2 separate regions of the Homo sapiens genome follow, and region 1 is linked to region 2. The links come from fine-mapping of genetic effects on gene expression. A gene starts in region 2. The other region holds a variant in brackets. All regions are shown on one strand. Distances are from middle to middle.

Region 1 (8,000 bases), 41 kb after region 2:
TTAAACAAATTTCAACATAATTGGATTCCTGGGTTATTTTAGGTGTTTTGTTTTATGCATATGAAATTCTGAGAATGAGTCCATAAACTTCACCAGACTACCAGGGGTAAGGCCCATGTCGTTGGAAAGATTAAGAACTCCCAAGAGAGGCTGTGCCAGAGCATTTACAGATGAATGTTCATGAAGGCAAACCAGAGCAACCCAAATGTCATCAGCAAGAGAGTAGACAAATGAAATGTGAACTATTCATTTTGGAATACTGTGCAGTAAGTGAACAGAAACGAACCAGAAGTTTGATGCAGCCACATGAGTGAATCTCTAAAACGGTATTGTAGTTCAAGACAGCACATCACAGGTGAATGGCACAACTCTCTTTATAGACTTGAAACCCCAGGGATAATGACGTATAACATTGTCTAGGGACCATCCGATGTGGTAAAATAGTCAAGAAAAGCAAGGGAGCAATGCATACAGCATTCAGGACAGTGGTTCACCCTGGGGAGCAGGGGTAGAAGGAGGATGAACTTGAGAGGAGACACACAGGGGACTTCAGTGGTGTCAGTCACGTTCTATTTCTTAACACGAGTGATGAGTACATGTTTATTTTCTTCATTTGATTCTTCTTTAAGCTGTACATAGGCAGTATAGATGCTTTTACTCTTGTAAGTAGGAGACATTTTTCAAGTTGTGTAGCCATGGGACATCTACTATCCCATGCCTCTTTGATTTGGCGGTTTGTTCTCTCCTAACTTCTTGGCATCCTTGTAGGGCATAGACGAGGGCCCCGAGGGGCTGAAGCTCATTTCTGACATCATCCGTGAGAAGATGGGTATTGACATCAGTGTGCTGATGGGAGCCAACATTGCCAATGAGGTGGCTGCAGAGAAGTTCTGTGAGACCACCATCGGTAAGCACTGCCTGGGAGGGACCCCAGGAGTCTGGACATTTGATGTTTGAACATGTACATATTCCATTTCTGATATTTTCTGTAATAGACTCTTCCCTGTCCCTCTTAACATTCCTTAGTTGGGCATTCAGTGGGGCGAGGGTTTTACTTAAGGAGGCTATTTTGTGGAACTGAAGTGTTTCAACAACCTCCAGAATGAATATAAATGAATATAGCCAAGAAGAGCATTCTGACTTGCTGTGATCCAATAATGAATTACTGAGGTTAAACACAAAAGTGCAAGGTTGCTTGTACCAAGAAACAGGTGGCTACATCCATGGTAGGGGTCCCCTGGCCTCAGAAGCCCAAATTTTCTTTTCTTACAAATGTTAGTATCTGGATCCTCATTGATTCCAGTGAGATCTAAAAATTGGTTGAATGACCCCCATTTTCAGGTGAATGATAAGACTCAGAGAATAAATTACCTGCCCCAAGATCACACACTAATGTAGAAGCCAGGAACAAATTTGAGTCTTCTGTTTCCTGAACTAGTAAGCCTTTTCTACTCTTACACATTATACATTAGATACATTATTCTCACATTGACGTTATGAAAATTTTCATTTCTTTTGAAAGGGGCTTTGAGAATTCTCAAGTGTCCGTGTACTATATTAAACGATGCTTTGTTGGAAGAGTAATATTATTGTATTTTCAGATGCTTTGCAAAAGTTTATCTACCACTGCAGAACTTACTTTCACCCTTATCAAACCTGCAAGCAATATGAATCATTTCCCCTTGGCAGCTTTGTAAAAGGAAGCTCTGAGAGATGTCAGGCTCTCTTGCATGAGATGAATGCGCAGGAAAATGTAGCTCCAGATTCTTATACCTGCCTATACGTAGGACTTTTTAGGATTTTTTTGGAATTTTCTACCTTAATTTTTATTTTTAATTATGGAGGTATTTTACATGATTATTATGGAAGATAGAGATAATCAAAAGAAAGCCATTTTAAATTTTTGATAATTTTGTTATATATCCTTTTTTACTATTTGTATGAACTATTATGTTTGTAGTGAATCATATGCTGTTTAATAATTGCTTTATTCGCTGAATATGTAACAAAAACCTTTCAGAGTCTGTTAACATACTGTACATCCTCATAACTGCATAGCATTCCATCAGCAATTCCATATATTTGGATACAAAACTTTTTTTTGAAAAATAATATTTGTTGGAGAGGAGAAGTATCACAAATAATACAAAGAAGAAAAGAATAGCCTATGATACCACCTGCCCAGGTTGTCATTTACGAAAGTGATACAGACACAGGTTTAAAAAAAAATTCAAGCACCATGAGAAGGTGGAAAAGTAGAACTAAGATTGTAATTTCCCACCCATTTCCCTCTTCCCAGAGGGAATCACTGTTAGCAGTTTCTTTTTTGTTTTTTATAATTGCAACTTTTATTTTAGATTCGGGGGTACATGTGCAGGTTTGTTACATGGGTGTATTGCATGATGCTGAGGTCTGGGTTATGACTAATCCTGTCACCCAGGTAGTGAGCATAGTACCCCACAGGTAGTTTTTCAATCCTTCCCTCCTTTCTCTCCTCTCTAGTAGTCCCCAGTATCTGTTGTTGCTATCTTTATGTTCATGGGTACCCAATGTTTAGCCCTCACTTGTAAGTGAGAACATGCAGTATTTGGTTTTCTGTTCCTATGTTAACTCACTTAGGATAATGGCTTCCAGCTGCATCCATGCTGCAAAGGACATGATTTTCTTTTTTTTTTTTTGAGATGGAGTCTCACCCTGTCGCCAGGCTTGAGCGCAGTGGTGCTATCTTGGCTCACTGCAACCTCCAATTCCCTGGTTCAAGCGATTCTCCTGCCTCAGCCTCCCAAGTAGCTGGAATTACAGGCATGCGCCACCACGCCCAGCTAATTTTTGTATTTTTGGTAGAGACAGGGTTTCACCATGTTGGCCAGGATGGTCTTGATCTCCTGACCTCATGATCCACCTGCCTCAACCTCCCAAAGTGCTGGGATTACAGATGTGAGCCACCGCGCCCGGCTGATTTCATTCTTTTTTAATGGCTTTTACTATTAGCAGTTTCTAAATATTCTTCTGGAAAAAATTTATTTATATTTGTATGCTAGTATGTACATATATGAATATGTCTTATTCTTTTACAGTAAATTCTTTTATTTATCTGCAGTTTTAATATAGCCTGTGAAATTGTTATGTAATTACTTATATTTTCCCAAAAAGATTAACTAGTTTGTTCCAACTCAATCCTATTTGCCAATAATCCTTTCCCAGTTCATTCTGGAAGACTAAATCTTAATCTGCAATCCCAATCCCTGATCCAATCCTGGCTAGGACTCTAGCCCTGTTTGTTGTAGGAAAGTTTCTAGTTGGGTACATTAGGCTTTTTTGGTTTTAAAAAACAGATAAAAGCACATAAGTTGCATTTCTTTCCCTCTGGCATTTCTTTACCCGGTGCTTCTATGCCTTCTCTGTGGGGTGGAGTGTGATAAGCACTGATGACCTGAATTAAATTAAGTAAAGCATTTCTGGGTGGAGTAGCTCTCGTGAGGCTAAAGCCGAGGATCTTCTGAGGCCAAGAGTTTGAAATCACCCTGGGAAATGTAGCTGGGAGTTTCCAAAAAAGAAAAAAAAAAATTTTTTAATTAGCCTGGTATGGTAGTACATACCTGTAGTCCCAGCTACTCAGGAGACTGCTGTGGGAGGATCACCTTGAGGCTAGGAGATTGAGCGAGGCTGTAGTCACTGCAGTGGCTATGATCACGTCATTGCACTCCTGCCTGGGTGACAGCAATACCCTGTCTCTTTAAAAAAAAAAAATTTAAGTAAAACATTGAAAGTAAGATAGAATATGAAAGTGATGTTTAAAAATTGTTTTATATAACCTGAATTAATTAATTTTTAAAAGTAGAGTCTTGTTCGAATTCCTGGCCTCATGGGATCCTCCTGCCTCAGCCTGCTGATGTACCGGGATTACAGGTGCG[A/G]GCCACTGTGCCCAGCCTATAACCTGAATTTAATCATGAGAAAATATCAGACAAGCCCAAAGTAAGAGATATGTTATAAAACAACAGGCCAATGGTATCTTTGACTCTTCAAAAAAGTCAGTGTCATGAAAGACAATGAAAGGCTAAAGGAGTGTCCCAGAATAAAAAGGACTAAAGATATATTACCGAGCCAGGCGTGGTGACTCACACTTATTATCTTAGCACTTTGGGAGGCCAAGGTGGGAGATCACTTGGGCCTAGGAGTTTGAGACCAGCCTGGGCAACATAATGAGATCCCATCTCTACAAAAAATACAAAAATTAGCCAGGTGTGGTGGCGCACACCTGTAATCCCAGCACTTTGGGAGGCTGAGGCGGGCGGATCACCTGAAGTTAGGAGTTTGAGACCAGCCTTGTCAACATGACAAGCGAAACCTCATCTTTACTAAAAATACAAAAATTAGCCAGGTGTGGTGGTGCACGCCTATGGTCCCAGGTACTCGAGAGCCTGAGATGAGAGGATTGCTTCAGCGTGGGAGGTGGAGGCTGCAATGAGCAGTGATCGCACCATGGCACTCCAGCCTGGGTGACAGAGCAAGACCTTGTCTCTAAAAATCAAAAAGGAGACATGAGCACTATGTGCAGTGTGGGGTCCTGGATTAGGCAGGGAGGGTTGCTGTGGAAGACAATGCAGAGGTGATTGGTGAGGTTTGAATGTGGATTATATGTTAGATAATAATATTATGTAAACATTACATTTTCTGTATTTGATCATTGCAGTGTGGTTATCCAGACATCCTTTGTTGATGCATAGGGACTATTTTAAATTGCGGTAGGTTCAGGAATCGTGGCCCACTTGAATCTTCTGTGGAGGGAAAAGATAGGGCAGCTTCAGGCCTCAAAATCCTGTCATGGTGAACTACAGTGCCCTCTTGTGGTAAGGTCTCCTTTCGTTCTTGGGGCATACCACAGACTCTGAGGCTTTTAATCCAGTCATTCCACAAATATTTTTCAAACCCTCTTATGTATCAGGCATGGTGCCAAATGTCTAGAATACATAAGCTCCTTATGGAACTTGTAAGCACACAAACACATATGGAATCACAAACTAAAATAAGGGTTTTGAAGGAGTTTTATTACATAGGTTAATTGCCTCTAAAACTTGGTGTGACAGAGAAAGGGGATTTTCCTGTCTTTGGTTTACATTGAGTTTTGGGCAACCTTCCCACATGGCTGTCCGGCATTAGCTGTTCTGTACAGATGCCCTGAGTCCCTGCTTGCCATGTCACTGTTTATTACTGGGGTTTGTTGTTGTTGTTGTTGTTGTTTTTGAGATGGAGTCTCACGCTGTTGCCCAGGCTGGAGTGCAGTGGCGTGATCTCGGCTCACAGCAACCTCCGCCCCCTGGGCTCAAATGATTCTAATGCCTCAGCCTCCTGAGTAGCTGGGAACACACACACACACACACACACACACACACACCACCACGCCAGGCTAATTTTTGAATTTTTTGTAGAGATGGGATTTCGCCATGCTGACCAGGCTGGTCTCGAACTCCTGACCTCAAGTAATCCACTTACCTGAGCCTCCCAAAGTGCTGGGATTACAGGCATGAGCCACCGCGCTGGCTTATGACTGGTATTATATTAATAATAAAATTCGCGGGCCGGGTGCGGTGGCTCATGCCTTTAATCCCAGCACTTGGGAAGGCCAAGGCAGGTGGATTGCTGGAGGTCAGGAGTTCGAGACCAGCCTGGCCAACATGGCGAAACCCCATCTTTACTAAAAATACAAAACTTAGCCGAGTATGGTGGCGCATGCCTATAGTTGCAGCTACTCAGGAGGCTGAGGCGGGAGAATCGCTTGAGCTTGGGAGGTGGAGGTTGCAGTGAGCTGAGATAGTGCCACTGCACTCTAGCCTGGGCAACACAGCAACTCTGTCTCATAAATAAATAAATAAAGTTACTACCTATTATCCATGATTTAAGGTAATAAATTTTAAAAGGTACCTTTGAGAAAATATGAGATTGCTATAAATCAAGCCCACCTCTTGGATGGGCATTGCGTTATTTGCAGCCACAAAGGAACCCATAGACCCTACCTTGTATCTATGGCAAGCCAAGAGTGTGCCTTCCCCTGCCCATTCCTCAGTTTGTTCACCAGCAACCCAAGTTTCCAGCTGCAGATGGCTGGATTAAAGTGACTTGAGGGAGGGGCTGGTCTGCAATGTTCAGGAGCATGCTTCATGTTGGAGGCACTGAGCAGTGGGAGGAGACACGATGAGGCTGTAATATGATGTAGGGGCCAGGGGCTGGTTTACCCAACCCAGATGATGCAACAGTGTTGCACAGAGTCACCTAGACAGCCTGGTGGACTGTTTAAAAAGGAAGAGAACAGTTTGCACAAACTGACATAGTTCTAACATTTGGAAAAGGGGAACTCAGCTAAATGAAAGAACAGTAATGCTACAGAGTAGACTGTGTTTCTAAGTATTGGGTGTAGATATTGTGTTTTATTATGAAACTTTTCAGAAAAGTAGAGTAGTATCACGAACCTCACATGCCCGTCACCCATCTTTAGAAATGATTAACTCCTGGCCAGTCTCATTTCATCCACTCCCCACCCTCTCTCAACCCTCAGATGGCCTGGATTATTTTGACATTGTGTCACTTCTTGGTGTAGTTTTACTTGTTGACAATCATGCTTTTTTCTTTTTTTTTTTTTTTTTTTTTGAGACAGAGTCTCGCTCTGTTGCCCAGGATGGAGTGCAGTGGTGAGATCTCAGCTCACTACAGCCTCCACCTCCTGGGTTCAAGCGATGCTCCTGCCTCAACCTCCTGAGTAGCTGGGACCACAGGTACGTGCCACCACGCCCAGCTAATTTTTTGTATTTTTAGTAGAGATGGGGTTTCACCATGTTAGCCAGGATGGCTTCAATCTCTTGACCTCGTGATCTGCCCGCCTCAGCCTCCCAAAGTGCTGGGATTACAGGTGTGAGTCATCGTGTCTGGCCAAAAAAAACTTTAGATTCACATTCGGTCAGTTAAAAATGTATGTCAAATTGTAAATGATCACCTCGATTGGAAACGGGATATTTTTACTTTATTTCTGCTCCTATGTGTTTTCTAAATATCCTATCATGAACATGTTACTTTTATAGTAAGTAGAAACTTATTTTAAAGTGTATTAGGTGTGAAAATTAAGATTAGAGGCTGTTATTAATATCCTTGTTGTCTAACCTTTCAACAGGCAGCAAAGTAATGGAGAACGGCCTTCTCTTCAAAGAACTTCTGCAGACTCCAAATTTTCGAATTACCGTGGTTGATGATGCAGACACTGTTGAACTCTGTGGTGCGCTTAAGGTAAAGTCAGCCTCAGGGGAGGAGTTCATCAAGCAAGGCAAATGTTAGCATCATTGAGTCTAATCCTCAAGAATGGGCTCTGTGTTCTGTGCACCCACATCAGCGAAGAATAGTGAATTGAGAGTCTTGTTTATAACTTCCTGTTTTGCTGCAGCCTTTCCCGGGTGGTTCAGTTCCTCTCTTACTCGTGGCTTGCTTTAACTTGTAAATATGGGGGAATTGTGATGTTTTGGTCTTTGGGAAGTTGGCAGCATTGATATTTGGAAAGCATGGGAGTTCCTTGATGACAGGGTTTCACCCAGGAGCAAATGATTCTATTCATTCATGTTTTTCTCCCACACTTCATCCTGAGCAGGAAAAGGAACTTGTTTCCTCTGAATTATGCTACTCTACTAGTTTGGCTGGTTGTTCTTATTAAGGGAAAAAATAATCTGCTGCTGGTAGAGGTTTTTCTAAGAATAGTTTTGTCTTTGCCCTCAAGAGAGAGAAGATGTGATTAAAGAAATGCACTCCACTGGCCAGTGGCTTGCTGGATTTTTGTAAGTGGAACTGTACAGTATGCACTCTTTTGTGTCCGGCTTCTTTGATTGGAGGTGTATTTTTGTTTGTTTTAATGTAAATTTTAAGAGGTACTTCATACAGAAAAGTACAAAAATCATAAGTATGTAGTTTATGTTATCTTTTTTTCCCCTCTTTTGAGGTAAAGGGAGGTCTCCACACCTGGG
Region 2 (16,343 bases):
AATCTGCCTTTTATCCATTATGTCTCTATTCCCCAAGGAAGTGAGATAAAAGCCAATATAAGTTTCCAGAAGGAGGCATTGTTTTCTTCTGCCAAAAATCTGTAATTTATCACTGGACTGTCAATAACAATATTGAAGATGGGTAATTGCATTTGAAACCGCTATACCAAGAACAAATGTCACCACCAGAGATTGTATGGTGTGTAATGAGGAAGCAAAGTTGTGATATATGTGGGGTAAGGCAGAATAGATAAAATGTTTCTCTACGGTGGTCCAAGTGTATGTTTTACTTGGAATTAGAGAAATAAATGTAACCAATATCAGCCTGTGAAAAAGTTTTCAGTGTCACAGAGAAATAAGAAAAATAAAGACTTTGGGGGAGTGTTTTCCAAAAAGATAAGTTGTTTTCTTTTAAGTTTTCATTATATGCATCCTTTTCTTATGTTGACTGACATTTTTAATGCGAAATGACATCTAGTGAAAAAGCAAGTAACAGAACAATGTGCATAGCATACTAATTAAAAACAAGAGGAGCCAGGCGCAGTGGTTTACGCCTGTAATCCCAGCACTTTGAAAGGCTGAGGCCAGAGGATCTCTTGAGCCCAGGAGTTCAAGACCAGCCTGGGCAGCACAGTGAAACTTCATCTCTACCAAAAACTTTTTAAAATTGGCCAGGTATGGTGGCTCGCACCTGTAGTCTCAGCTAGTTGGAAGGATGAAGTGAGAGGATCAATTGCTTGAAGTTAGGAGGTCAAGGCTGCTGTGAGCCATGTTTGTGCCTCTGCACTCCAGCCAGGCAACAGAGCGAAACTCTGTCTCAAAAACAAAAAAAGAGAGAGGAAAAAAATGTATTTGTATATGCATGGAATATTCTTGGAAGGATACACAAAGAAATTGGGATTGAGAACAAGGGTTTCTTCAAAGGAGGGAATTGGGCATCTGCTGTAAAAGAAAGGGATTTCACTGTATACCTCTTTAAGACTTTTGGGTTTTGAGCCAAATGGATGCATTAATTATTCAAAATATAAGTTAATTAAAGTAAGATTAATAAGATGAATTAAAATAAAATAAGATGAAATAAAATGGTAATCGGATATGGTAATAGCTTATGTCCTTACTTGGAGAAAATGGACAAGTCTCTGTCAGACATCAAAAGAATTAAAAATATTTTAATCTGTAAAATCCTGAAGTCCTATTTTTAAAAATAAATATCTAACACACTGATATTAAGTAAATATCTTCTCATTTTAGTTAAAGAAGATGCATGTATCAGTTTGTCCCGTCACTGGCAATGACTTTGACCATGTGGTTAAGGTGGTGTCAGCCAGTTTACTCTACAGTAAAGTTACTGTTTTATCCTTTGTAAACAATTTGTGTGGACACTTTAATGCTAAATAAATATCCTGTCCCACATCAAACTTTCGTCACTATTGTTAGCATCCATTGATGATTGTCTAGAGCCATCATTCTTTCCATATTTATGGGTTGACATTTGACTTGTTTGTCTGCCTTGTTTGTTTACTTATTTCCCTTCTGCCTTGTTTGTTTACTTGTTTCTTTGAATCGGTATAGGCTCATGAACTTTTATTCAAAGAGTTTAAATTCATAACTATTATTATTAATTTTAATGCATGCATTGACTCAGATTTGCCTAGTGGGAAATCCTTTTTTTTTTTTTTTTTAATACTATGGACCACAAGACCCTGCTATTTAATCTGGGCTGACTGTGTCTCTGACTGAAATGCTCCTCTCTCTCATACTTACTTATTAATTATAGTTTTCTGTTCCTCAAACATGCAGGCTCTGCACTGCCTCGGGGCCTTTACACTAGCAGTCCCCCTCCCTGGAGTTGTCTTCTTCCCACCTTCCCATGGCAGGCTCCTTCCATGCGTTCAGATGTCTCCTTCTCAGAGAATTTTTCTGGGACCATCTTGTCTAATATAAGACTAATCCCTTGGCTGGGCGCATGGCTCACGCCTGTAATCCCAACACTTTGGGAGGCCGAGGTAGGCGGATCATAAGGTCAGGAGTTCGAGACCAGCCTGGCCAACATGGTGAAATGCCATCTCGACTAAAAATACAAAAATTAGCCTGGCATGGTGGCGGGTGCCTGTAATCCCAGCTACTCGGGAGGCTGAAGCAGGAGAATCACTTGAAACCAGAAGGCAGAGGTTGCAGTGAGCCAAGATCACGCCACTGCACTCCAGCCTGGACAACAAGAGCAAAACTCTGTCTCAATTAAAAAAAAAAAAAGACTAATTTATCTCTCACTCTTACTCCCAATCTCATTCTCAGTCTCTCTTTTGTATTTCATTTTATTTACCTTTTGAGACAGAGTCTTGCTCTGTCTGGAGTGCAGTGGCACAATCATAGCTCACTGCAACCTCAAACTGTTGGGTTCAAGGGATCCCCCTGCCTCAGCCTCCCGAGTAGCTGGAATCACAACTACTCAAGAGATCCTCCTACTGGGATTACAGGTATGAACCACTGCACCTGGCCTCTCCTGTATTTTAGATATCTCCCTCTCTGTTGGCTCCTCCCCAGGACTAGTTCAACATATTCTAGCCTCCTCCACATGATGTAAAACAAACAAGCACAAAAAAACTAAAATTATTTTGCTACTCTTTAGTTTTGCCTCTCCTTTTCCTCGTGTCCCTAGCTCTCATCTTCTCACAGCCAAACTTCTAGAAAACACTGTCTACTGCTGCAGTTTGAATGTCTGTGTCTTCTCCAAAATTCATGTTGAAACTTAATCCCCAATTTGATAGTATTAAGGGGTGGGGCCTTTAGGAGGTGATTAAGTCATGAGGGCTCTAATTGGGAATTATGACTTTATTTGTTTATTTGAGACAGGCTTGCTCTATTGCCCGGGCTGGAGTGCAGTGACACAATCACTGAAGCCTTAACCTCTTGGCCTCAAGGGAGCCTCCCACCTCAGCCTCCCAAGTAGCTGGGGATATAGGTGTGCACCGCCATGCCCAGCTATTTTAAAAATTTTTTTGTAGAGACAAGGTCTTGCCAAGTGGTCCAGGCTGGTTTCAAACTCCTGGGCTCAAGCAATCCTCCCATGATAGCCTCCCAAAGTGCTGGGATTATAGTCATGAACCACAGCACCTGGCCAGATTATGACTTCATAAAAGCGATACAGGGAATTAGGCCCTTTTTTTTTTCCCTCTGCTCTTCCATCATGTGAGGACAAGCAAGAAGGCCTTTACCAGACACTGAATGCCAGCACCTTGACCTGGGACTTTCCAGGTTCCAGAACTAAGACATAAATTTCTGGGCTGAGCTCGGTGGCTCATGCCTGTAATCCCAGCAGTTTGGGAGGCCAAGGCAGGCAGATCACTTAAGGCCAAGAGTTTGAGACCAGCCTGGCCAACATGGTGAAACCCTCTCTCTACTAAAAATACAAAAATAGCCAGGCATAATGGTACAAGCCTGCAATCCCAGCTACTCAGGAGGCTGAAACACGAGAACCACTTGAACCTGAGAGATGGAGGTTGCAGTGAGCCAAGATCCTGCCATTGCACTCCAGCCTGGGCGACAAAGGGAGACCCTGTCTCAAAAAAAAGCAAACAAACAAAAAAATTCTGTTCTTTATAAATTGCCTGGTTTCAGGTATTTTGTTACAGCAGCACAAACAGACTAAGATATCTGTACTTTCTCAAGCCTCACTTCCCTACCTTCCATTTATTTATACCTCCACCCACCACACAATGAGTTTATGCTCTGCCCCAAAACTGAAAGTGACTTACTCTGACCAGATACAGAAAAAAACAGGCCTGTGGCTAGCCCATATATTGCTTTCATATGGACTGGAAAAACATTTCCCTTTTTCAAGACGCTTGCTTCCATCTATCAGAAAATAGTCATCTTAGGTATACCAATCTGCAATGTCTGCAATGTGCATGGTGCCTGCTGGTGTTGTGCAGTGTGCTACCTGCACAACCATATGAGGACCCTACCAACATCCTCCAAGCCCGAAAGATACATTACACGGCCGGGCTCAGTGGCTCACGCTTGTAATCCCAGCACTTTGGGAGGCCGAGGCGGGCAGATCACGAGGTCAGGAGCCAGACCATAGTGAAACCCCGTCTACTGAAAATACAAAAAATTAGCTGGACGTGGTGGCGGGTGCCTGTAGTCCCAGCTACTTGGGAGGCTGAGGTAGGAGAATGGCGTGAACCCGGGAGGCGGAGCTTGCAGTGAGCAGAGATCGCGCCAATGCACTCCAGCCTGGGTGACAGAGCGAGACTCCGTCTCAAAAAAAAAAAAGAAAGAAAGAAAGATGCATTATACTTTAGTCCTATCCATTTTTTTTTTTTTATGACAGTCTTGCTGTGTTGCCCAGGCTGGTCTCAAACTCCTGGGATCAAGCGATCTGCCCATCTCAGCCTCCCCAAGTGCTGGGGTTACAAGCATAGAATAGCCACTGCACCCAGCCCTAGTTTTTATTTGACCACTTTCAACTCCCCTGTGACCATCCTTCCTTCTTGAAATGTTGCCTTCCTTTGGCAACTGTGATACCACACAATGTTCTCATTGTTTCTTTCTCATCCTCTCATGCTTCTCTTCTTTAATATTAAGTCCATTCCAGAGTCTATCCTGGTTTGTCTTCCCATCTCTCTGAGTGATCCCAATCACTTTCATTCAACATTTATTGAGTGCCCACTCTGTGCTAGGCATTGTTCTAGGCACTGACCACTTGCAACTTCTAAGTACATGCTGGTAAATGACAAATGTGTCTATCTCAGGCTCACATATCCAACTGCCTCCCTGAAATCTGAACTTCGATATCAAACGACCTTCCCCCAAACTTAACTTGTCTAGAACTGAGTTCATCATCCTTCTCTCTAGATCGGTTTCTCTTCCTGGGTTCCCCATTTTAGCAAATGATATTCATTCAGTTGCCCAAGACTGATAGCTGGAGTCATCCTAGACCCTTTTCTCTCTCCCACCTGAGAAAGTAGTAAGTCTCTTTTTTCTGCTTCCTAGATATGTCTGACTTTCAATCACCTGTCTCCATCACTGTTACCACCACACTGGTCTCCATCTCACTCTAAGCCATTATGATGGCTCTTATAGAATACAGCAGCAGGCTCCTTCCTGGCCTCAGCCTTCGGGACTTTTCCCTGTGAATTCATCCAGAGCATGCTTCCTATGACACAAGACTGATGATGTTAAGCTCCTGGTGAAACCCTATAATGGTTTTTTTGGCCTTCAGGATTTCAGTTCTAATTCTTCAATATGCTTTATAAGGCCAACCATAATCAGGTACCTCCTCTACCTCTCTGCTTTTATTTATTTCCATTCCCCCTTTCCCCTCATATTCTGTCACTCATTCATTCTTCCCTCCATCCATACTAAACTCCTCTTAGCTTCTGAATATCCCATTCTCTCTCTAGACTCTGAACTTTGGCCTGTGCTGTTCCCTCTGCATGGAGCAGCTCATTAGCTGCTCTCCCACCCCTTTACTTTGCCGATGCTACCTTCTCTTCAGGTTTCAGCAGAGATCTTACTTTATCTAGGAAGCCTTCCCTAAACTCCCAAATCTGGGACAAGGGTCTTTTTCTGAGCTGCCATAGTAAGCTGGTACCATTTATCACACTAGGGTGTTTCCCTGTTCATTGGTCTACATCTTCCTTTAAATATAAGCATCTAAGAGGTCAGGAACCTTGCCTCTCTTCTTTGTTTGTTTTTGAGACAGACTCTCACTCTGTTGTCCAGGCTGGAGTGCAATGGCACGATCTCAGCTGACTGCAACCTCCACCTCCTGGGGTCAAGTGATTCTCCTGCCTCAGCCTCCTGAATAGGTGGGACTACAGGCATGCACCACCACACCTGGCTAATTTTTTTTTTTTTTTTTTTTTAGAGATGGGGTCTTGCCCAGGCTGGTCTCGAACTCCTGAGCTCAAGTGATCCGCCCACCTCAGCCTCCCAAAGTACTGGGATTACAGGTGTGAGCCACCTCATCCAGCTTTTGTTTAATATTTAATTCTTGGGACCCAGCACAGTGACCAGCACATAGTAGGTGCTCAGTAAGTACATGTAGAATAAATGAACAGTTGATAAGTGCAGGATATGAATCCAAAAATTCTGGTCCTGACTCACCACTGGACCCTTGGAAAGTGTTTATTAGTGTTGCTGTACCTTAGTGTCCTCACTTGTAATACGAATATATAATATAGAGCATGGCAATGGCAATTTTAAAACATAATCCCCAAATTCTTTGACACTTCTTTTAACGAGAGGTAGAGCCTATGTCCCTTCCTTTAGAATTTGGGCTCTGTAATTTCTTGACCAAAAGATCACAACAAAAGTGATGTCATGGCCATTTCTGGACTCAAGTCTTAAGAAATCGGCAATTTCCATTTTGTTTTTCTTGGGATGCTTCCTTGCGGAACGCAGGCACTATGCCATGGAGAAGCAGCTCCAGAGAGGCCCACGTAGAGGACTCCAGCCTCCAGCCCTCAGCTTCTGCCAAGCTCCCAGGCAGCAACACCCACAATTTGGCAGCCATTTTGGCCTCCATCTTGCTCCATCCAAGCAAATCATCTTGGAAGTGGACCTTCCAGCCCCATTTGAACATCCACCCCCATGTAAGATTCCAGAGATAAAGAAATGTTGTTTAAGATCTACATTTTGGTATGGTTTGTTATGCAACAAGCAATAATCAGGACAGATTTTGATACCTGGAAGTGGAGTATTGATAATACCATAACACGCAGCACTGGCTTTGGGACTGGGCAGCAGATACAAGCCAGAAACGCCTCTGGGAGCATGTTAGTAATGGTGTAGGAGGCTGGGAGTGAGGACTTAAAAGTGAGGGAAATGTTATCTGGAGAGAGGAAAGGGGACTCCAGTTACATAGAAAAGTTTGGCAACACTGTTGCCGTGGCCTTCTGTAATGTGGAAAATAAAAAGTGTACTTCATGAACTCAGTGACCTTTCTAAGAAGATTTCTGGGCTGAGTTTCCAAAGTGCTGCCTGATTTTTACTTGGCTAGCTAGTGGCACCTCTTTCTACCACAATGCATGAACCAGTCATGTTGTTAAAGACATTGTCTCCATGCATGAAATTATAGACACCCTATGCCAAGCTTGTCCAACCCACAGCCTATGGACCGCATGCGGCCCAACACAAATTCGTAAACTTTCTTAAAGCATTATGAGATTCTTTTTGCAAGTTTTTGTTTGTTTGTTTTGTTTTTTAGTTTATCAGCTATCATTAGTGTTTTATGTGTGGCCCAAGACAGTTCTTCCAGTGTGGCCCAGGGAAGCCAAAAGATTGGACACCCCTGCCCTAAGCCTTCTCCAGGTCCCCGAAGAGTTGGCACTGTCACAATGACAATGGCTAACCTTTTGTCTTCCAGGCTACTCAACCCTTTTGGAGAAGGTGGCAACATCGTTGGCACTGTCATCTTAGACAAAAGAGAGTGGGACTGGCAGAAGATCAGCTATCTCAAAATTGGAAAGCAGGTCACTAGTTCCTATCCACTGTGATTCGTCTGGCATTCTTCAGTCCTCTGTACTGTGGCTTCTCCTTTCCCCCATGATTTTCATTAAACATCTACACAAAAATTATTTAATATGTGCAAAATGTATAAATAACTAATCCTGCCCTTCACCATATCCATGATCCTGCATTTTGTGTGTTTCCTTTCTTTGTTTTCCTCTATGGTTTCACTACATGTGAATCCCTAGTGATAGATTTATTTTTGCTTGTTTCTTAACTAACAGAAATGGGATCACACTGTATGTATTCTCCCGAAACTTGCTTTATTCTCTCAACATTAAGTTCATAAATTTCACCTATTTGTTTTTTGTCTTAATCTTTGTAACCAGTCTGTAAAACCAAATGACTATCCTCTCTGTTCTGGCACAATGTGCTGTGCATATCAGGTGACCAGTAAACACTGTAGGATGATGCTGGGCAGGATATGTCCACAGTGTTGGGAGAAAAGCTGAGTGTTGGGAGAGAACCTGAGGCAGGGCTTGGAACATGTCAGGGGTCCAGGGTCTAAAACCCCTCGTGGCCTTTGGAATGGGTCTAGACTTGCGGGCTCCTTGCTTTTAGCACTCCCATTATCTCAAGTAGCCATATGTTTCAAAGAAAATGCTAAACTCTCACAGCTATAGCTCATTCGCTTGATACGCCACTTCCTTCCAACCCCCACATCCTCACCACCTGTTTCTTTGTTTTATCACCAATAAATAGCGTGGGCTCCCAGAGCTCAGGGCCTTTGCAGCCTCCATACTAGCGTTGGCCCCCTGGTCCCACTTTCTCTCTTGTCTTTTCTCATTCCTTTGACTCTGCTGGACTTCGTAGCACCCACAGCTTAGTGTTGGGTCTGATCACCCCAACACACAGAATAGGTGGGTAGCTCACGTTCATGCAAATGTAGTTGTAATATTCAGGAATAAGAGTTTCCAGAGAAGGTACAAAACTTTTACGTGACCCCCAAAAAATTTAAAAAAAAGAAAAAAAAACAAAAAACTTTTAGGTGGCTAGGCGTGGTGGCTCTTGCCTATAATCCCAGCACTTTGAGAGGCCAAGGCAGGAAGATTGCCTGAGACCTGGAGTTCAAGATCAGCCTGAGCAACGTAGCAAGACCCTGTTTCTACCAAAAAAAAACCTTTTTTAAAATAAACTAAAAACTTTTAGGCAACTGCTAAAAATGAATCATTTGGTGTAAAGGGACCTTTACAAAATCATTTAAGAGCAGGGACCTCTCTTAAAGGCCTGTGGATCTCCCAAGCATGGAAATAACAGAAAATCTTGAGTTCCTTCAAGGGAAATTCCAGGCACCTTCCCAGCCTTTAGAAGTAAATGAGCAAATTAATAAGCAAGAAGGTAATAGTAGCTTAAAACAATAGCCAAGGCCGGGCACAGTGGCTCACGCCTGTAATCCCAGCACTCTGGGAGGCTGAGGCAGGCAGATCACTTGAGCTCAGGAGTTCGAGACCAGCCTGGGCAACATGGCAAAATCCCGTCTCTACAAAAAATACAAAAATTAGCATTGTGACATGTACCTGTAGTCCCAACTACTTGAGAGGCTGAGGGAGAGGATCACTTGAGCTGGGAGGCAGAGGTTGCAGTGAGCTGAGATTGTGCCACTGCACTCCAGCCTGGATGACAGAGCAAGACTCTACCTCAAAATAAAAAAAAAAAATCAAAAATAAAAAGCCAAGGAAGTTAGAGTCAGAAGATGGTCCCTATAGAAACTAATGATGCATCTTAACTATGTCCCTGAGTTGTTTTTTAAAAACCCAGACCCTCACGAAATGTATCCACTGGCATATAGACCTCAGATAAGGAGGAACTGAGGATTGAACTCTGACCACTGTTCTTCAACGTCTTTCAGAGGGGCCTGAAAGTCATGTCTGCAAATCAGAACTAACATTCTTTTTTTTTCTTTTATTTTTTCTTTTTGGAGACAGTGTATCACTCTGTTGCCCAGGCTGGAGTGCAGTGGCACAATCATGGCTCACTGCAACCTCCACCTTCCAGGCCCAAGCAATCCTCCCACCTCAGTCTCCCAAGTAGCTAGAACCACAGGTCTGTGCCAGCATGGTCAGCTAATTTTTAAATTATTTTTGTAGAGATGGGGTCTCCCTATACTGCCCAGGCTGAGAACTAACGTTCTTTTCTACTGACCCCAAATTTTTAGACAAAGCTTTGTCTAAAGTTCCTTAACCAATTGCAAAAAAGAAAATCTCTGATTCACCTATGACCTGTGGGTCCCCCTCCCCCACTTTGAGATGTCCTGCTTTTTTAGGTCAAACCAATGTGTAGCTCCATGTATTGATTTATGACTTTGCCTGTAACCTCTGCCCCACGCACCTTTATTTTACTTTTTATTTTTGAGACAGGGTCTTGCTCTTTCATTCAGGCTGGAGTGCAGTGGCACAATTACAGTTCACTGCAACCTCGACCTCCTAGGCTCAAGTAATCCCCTCATCTCAGCCTATTCCGACTAGCTGGGACACCCAGCTAATTTTAATTTTTTGTAGAGACACGGTATGTGTTATCCAGCCTGGTCTTGAACTCCTGAGCTCAAGCAATCTTCCCACCCCGGCCTCCCAAAGTGTTGAGATTACAGGTGTGAGCCACCGCGCCTGGCCCCCAGCTGCCTTTAAAAACCCTTACTTGCCAGCCATCAAGGAGGAGCTACCTGATTCTCCTTGCTTGGTACCCTACAGATAAACACCCTTCTTTCTCCCTCTGCAAACCTTGGTGTGGGTATTTGGCCTTACTGTGTCAGGTGAAGGGACCCTAGTTCAGTTAGATAACATAAATATTTGCAGTGTATGTGTACTACCCAAGGACATGACTTCATTATTCAATTTGACAAATGCGTTCTGTTACACAAATACAGAAAGGATTAATAAAGCTTTACTAGTCCATCTTTCCCATTATCCCTGCATGTATCCTTGCATTAGTGCAAATAATTGAGAACAAACCATTGGTGAGGGGATGGAAAGACTGCTCTGACTCACCAGCTCCCTTTAAGTATTTCCTTAAGTAAATATCATAAGTAACACAAATAAATATTTCATACAATGTAGAGAAAAAAGCAAAAATAACAGTTCTCTGAGCATCAAACTAATAGGCTTAGTATTACTATCATTTTTTTGAAACGGAGTGTCGCTCTTGTCGCCCAGGCAAGATCTCGGCTCACTGCAACCTCCGCCTCCCAGGTTCAAGAGATTCTCCTGTCTCAGCCTCCTGAGTAGCTGGGATTACAGGCATCTGCCACCATGCCTGGCTAATTTTTTGTATTTTCAGTAGAGACGGGGTTTTGCCAAGTTGGGCAGACTAGTCTCCATCTCCTGACCTCAGGTGAACTGCCTGCCTCGACCTCCTGAAGTGCTGGGGTTATAGGCGTGAGCCACGGCACCCGGCCTAGGCTTAGTTTTTTGTAGGTACTAGAGTATTTGTTTCTTTAGCCAGAATCCACTGATATTTTAGTCTTCTGGTTCTCAATCTTGGCTTGCTTTTGCAACTACCTCTTGAACTTTAAAAAATTCTGCTCCAGCCTGGGCAACAGAAGGAGACTGTCTCAAAAAATATATGTCAATAAGTAAATATCCTGATGCCTGGATCCCACCATGGGACATTCTGATGTAACTGGCCTGCAATGGTGTCTGGGCATGGGGATTTTTAAAAGCCCCAGTGACTAATATGCAGCAGAGTTTGAGAACCACTGGTTTAAAGGACTTTGTCCTACTCTGACAGCGTCTAGCACAGTGCCTGGCAGAGACTGATGCTCAGAATGAACAAACTAAGATTCTATTTGTCAAGGAGGAGAGCATTGTGTTACTCACAAATGCAAACAAACCACAAGCAAGGGATAAGTCAGGCCCTGGGCAAAGACAATGGTAAAGCAATTCCTGCCAAGTAAGCGTGTGAGGGTGACACCCACTGAATGCAAGCTGTTGTTACCTTTTTCCCTTTATTTTTATGTATTTATTTTTTGTTGAGACAGGGTCTCACTGTCCTTCAGTCTGGAGTGCAGTGGCCCTATCCTGGCTCACTGAAGCCTCGACCTCCTGGGCACATGCAATTCTCCCGCCTCAGCCTCCTGAGTAGCTAGGACTATAGGTGCGTGCCACCATGCTTGGCTAATTTTTTAAATTTTTGTACAGAGGGGTGGGGGGTCCTAATTATGTTGCTCAGGCTGGTCTCGAACTCCTGGGCTCAAGTGATCTTCCTGACTCGGCCTCCAAAAGTGCTGGGATTACAGGTGTGAGCCACTGCACCAGGTCAAGTTTCTATCTTGACTCTAACTAGAAAAGGTGTCATCCTTGAAATGCAGGTACTGTTCAGCCAAATTCCAAAGTCCTCTGAAGATCCAAGTTCTCTAAGAAGTTCAGAGGTGCCAGGCTGTGTCTTGTTTGTGCAAATGAAACAGAGGATGACAAGGTCGGGTGGGCATTTCGAGCTCTGCCCCAAGTCTGGTCGGCTTGAGAGTCAACCTAGGAGCCTCTCTCGGCTCCAAATGGCAATGTGGCAGCCCTTCCCGAGTAGGGAAAAAGGAGCGTGTAGGGGGCACCACGGCAAGCTGGTTGGGTCTGCTCCACCCATGAGGATGGAGTGCAGCCTCCACCGGGAACCAGGGGCGCGAGTCGCTGCTCAGTGGCCTGGGCCTGCATGTGGCGCGGCGGGAGCTGCTGCCTAGGGCCGCGCAGCGACGGGGGGTGAGGACTACATGTCCCGACGTGCCTCGGGCAGGGCGGGGCGGTGCCGGAGCCGGGCCTGGAGGCCGGCCGGGGCCAGGCGTGCGCAGTGGTTCTTGGGAGTGGCGAAGCGGGTCCTGCCCCGCTGTCAGCTGCGGCCCCCGGCGCCGGGCGGGGGTGGCCGCGACCATTGGCGGAGAGGCGAAAGGGGCGGGGCCGCCGCCAGCCGCTGCGGGCAAGGCTGAACAGGCGGAGGTGGGCAGCCGGCCAGGGAAGCACGGTCCAGGCGGCTACATTCGGCCCGGCCATGGCAGCGGCGCCCCTGAAAGTGTGCATCGTGGGCTCGGGGAACTGGTGAGCGGCGGCGGGCTGGAGGCCGGGGCTCCGCTTCCAGGAAGCGCCTCTCCCGGGCGGTGAGGGCTGCGCGCCCCATGCTGCGGCGTGGGCACCGGGCACTGCGCGCAGGGAGGCGGGGTGGGCGACCTCGTTGCTGGGCTGGGCACCGTGCGCCCGAGGAGGCCGCACCGGGGCACTCGCTCGGGAGGCGCTGGGCTCGCGTGCGTGCGGGGGACAGCGCGGAGAGAGGGCACCCCGAGCACGCGGGCACCTGTCTGCGCCCCCGTTACTGAGCGCACAGAAGCCACCTGCTTGCCACGCCTGGGTGTTTTGCACAATATCCTAAGGGCGTATTCCGTTCTCCACGGCGGATCTCCTGGGTCAAGGACTTGGTGGAGGCTCGAGCATTCTTACTGCAGTTTCGGTGTTGAGGAAACCGAGGCGGAGAGGGCTAAAGGGCTCTTGCTGCCCAGGTCACGGGCGGGGCATGCTCTGCCCTTCAAGGTGCCCGTCTCGCCCCCGCTTCTGATAGGTCCACTATCTTAGGCGCGTCGTATCAGGAAGAAAATCCAAGTTTCAACAGGCCGCTCTCCCTGAGGCGTTGAGAATTCTCCCTTGCCGAGATGTTTGCGAAGCTTTGCGTCTCTTTGGGGCCTTATTTGACTTTAACATTTTATAGAGCACATTAGAAATGTCAGTTCTTCTAGTACCCTTAATCAAACGTACACTGTGGGATTCTCTGGTGTGTTTGGGTGAATGTAGAGGTGGGGGTGTGAAGGGGGAAGGAAGCAAAGTGTAGCATCTGGTGTTTCCAAGCCTTTTTTCATTGCTGTACACTCTGCCACATTGGAGGGACTGGTGTACAATAGTTAAGAGTGATGATGTCCTTTCAGTGCTTCTGTTTACCGGTTTTTCTGTGGCGTGACAGGCATCAGAAGTGCTGCAGCAGCTGGTCCTAGGTAGTTGGTCTTAGTTTTACTCTTTCAAGACTTGGCCCAGAAAGTACTTATTGAAGGAAACCTTACCTGGTTCTTCACTTTTCCATCCCAGCAAGGCCAGTGGCCTCTCTCTGTGTCCCTATTGCTGGCCTGCATCACTGCATTATAAGGAGTTATTTGATTATCTGTCTCCCAACTTTTGAGAATGGCATCTACCCTAGTGCCTGGCATATGCTAAGTCAATACTAAGACTCTGTTGCAGTGGTGCGATCTTGGCTCACTGCAACCTCCACCTCCTGGATTCAAGCGATTCTTGTGCCTCATCCACTTGAGTAGCTGGGATTACAGGTGTGAGCCACCGCTCCCTGCCTAAAAACTAATTTTTAAAACCATAATGATATTTGATTGAATAATACATTCACATTGTTTAACAACCAGGGCTGGGCGCAGTAGCTTATGCCTGTAATCCCAGCACTTTGGGAGGCTGAGGTGGGCCCAGGAGTTTGAGACTAGCCTGGGCAACACGGCAAAACCCCGCCTCTACAAAAAATAAAATATTAGTCGGGCATGGTGGCTCACGCTTGTAATCCCAGCACTTTGGGAGGCTGAGGCAGGGGGATCACGAGGTCAGGAGATTGAGACCACGGTGAAACCCCGTCTCTACTGAAAATACAAAAAATTAGCCAGGTGTGGTGGCAGGCGCCTGTAGTCCCGGCTACTTGGGATGCTAAGGCAGCAGAATCGCCTGAGCCTGGGAGGCAGAGGTTGCAGTGAGCCAAAATCAGATTGCACCATCGTACTCTAGTCTGTGTGAAGGGAGTGAAACCCTGTCTCAAAAGAACAAAACAAAACAAAAAATAAAAAACAAAAACCAAAGAGTACCAAAAACAGTGAAACATCACCCATCCACATTTATCCCCCCTGAGTACCTCCTGGAGGAAAACCAGTGTTATGAATTACTTCTGTCCTTTCTGGAGGAATTCCATGCAAGTGAATGCTTACATATAGTCCTTTCGCCCTCCACGCTGCAAATACTAGGGTATTGCATACTTTTCTGTGAGCTGCATTTTTCAACCAACAACAGAATGTTCTACACAATATTTAATAGAGTTGGTAGCTTGCTGCTGCAAAGCTTAATTTGGACTTTCAGCTTGGCTTTGCCAGTTGTTTTTTTTTATTACTATTTTTTTAGACGGAGTCTCCCTCTGTCGCCCAGGCTGGAGTGCAGTGGCGCGATCTCTGCTCACTGCAAGCTCCGCTTCCTGGGTTCATGCCATTCTCCTGCCTCAGCCTCCTGAGTAGCTGGGACTACAGGCATCCGCCACCATGCCTGGCTAATTTTTTGTATTCTTAGTAGAGACGGGGTTTCACCATGTTAGCCAGGATGGTCTCAATCTCCTGACCTCATGATCCGCCTGCCTCTTCCTCCCAAAGTGCTGGGATTACAGGCATGAACCACCGTACCCGGCCGGCTTTGCCAGTTTTAATGTCAAGCTCACTTGAGTGCAGTGTCAGCTCCCCTGTTGGCCATGCCACTTGAAAGGCACCCATTTAGCACATGTTTTTTTAACATTAGTTTTTTAGTCTGTACAATTCCACAGATGACAGCCCCTTTTCCTAATTTGCAAGATGCAGGACAAGTAGCACAGCTCTGCCATGCTGGAACTGGGCCTGGAGCAAGAGTAGTGAAGTGAGCCTCCTGCCCCCTCTGCTGGGATTTGGCTGCCTGCCCGTGGCTTCTTCATTCTGGTGTACTTGACTGTTTCCTTGGCCCACTCCAGCCCAGGGAAATGGAGTAGAACTTGGCCAGTGATACTGAAGCAGAGCAATTGAGAAATGTGCTGATGGTTTGGGCTGGCTGCCTGGCTTCATTAATTATGGGATTAGACGGGAACAATTCTTGGCTTCTGTGCCACTGCCTTGGGTACAGAGTTACTCCAGTCCTAGAGAGAGGATCACAACCTCCCCAGAGGGATTCAGGAACTCAGAAACTGAAAACAACATGGAGAAGCCCCAGAGGAGTGTTCAGCTCTAGTCAGTAGACATTTGAGTGTTGCCCGGTGAAGAGACTGTGGTCTGACCAGGGATGCAGACACAGCTGGACACAGTCCCGGTCCTTAAACAACTTACCTTCAGGTCTGAGATCAGTGAGGACATGGAAGATAAGACCGAAGGAATTGCCAAGTGGAATGGAGTAACTGCTCTGTTACACTTTAAATCGTGTTTCTTTTTTTGTTTGTTTGTTTTTGTTTTTCTTGAGACGGAGTCTCGCTCTGTCGCCCAGGCTAGAGTGCAGTGGCGCAATCTCAGCTCACCGCAAGCTTCGCCTCGCGGGTTCACGCCATTCTCCTGCCTCAGCCTCCCAGGTAGCTGGGACTACAGGCACCCGCCACCACGCCCAGCTAATTTTTTGTGTTTTTTAGTAGAGACGAGGTTTCACTGTGTTAGCTAGGATGGTCTCAATCTCCTGACGTCGTGATCTGCCTGCCTCGGCCTCCCAAAGTGCTGGGATTACAGGCGTAAGCCACTGCGCCCGGCCTAAATCGTGTTTCTTAAATTGTGGTCCCAAGACCACTTGTGTCAGAATTACCACTGAAACTAGACTTGCTTAATCATATCCCCTGAGAATGAGATTTTTTTTTCTGAAGGAACTTTAGCCTTTTGCCAATTTTAATACAGATCACCAAGAGATAGACCTACCCTTCCAGATCTGGTTCTTACCTCAGGAATGTCAAGTTGCTTAAGCAATGTTTATACTTGGAACTTTAGGGCAGCTTAGCCTGTTTGTGTAAATAAAGGTGTTTGTCACATTTGAGAACTCTCACATGGAGTGCCTCTCCCAAGTCAATTGTCATCAGTTGCAATACAGTTATCAGAATATTGAATCTAG

Evidence for each region.
Region 1: its variant is fine-mapped to the expression of GPD1L in whole blood (TOPMed, PIP above 0.99). The same link has a PIP of 0.9 or more in T cells.

Annotation. Positions count from the first base shown.
Region 1 is chr3:32,139,460-32,147,459 of GRCh38, forward strand. GPD1L (glycerol-3-phosphate dehydrogenase 1 like) reads left to right here. Exons shown (of 8, transcript NM_015141.4): 4 at 769-907; 5 at 7,163-7,275. Among named protein-coding and RNA genes, the nearest start is that of GPD1L, 37 kb to the left of the region's middle. The variant A/G (reference allele first, on the strand shown) is at 3,915.
Region 2 is chr3:32,094,226-32,110,568 of GRCh38, forward strand. It overlaps GPD1L (glycerol-3-phosphate dehydrogenase 1 like), which reads left to right and starts at 12,395. Exons shown (of 8, transcript NM_015141.4): 1 at 12,395-12,533. The coding sequence starts at 12,487. RefSeq lists silencers at 4,059-4,158, 12,128-12,537, 12,658-12,797.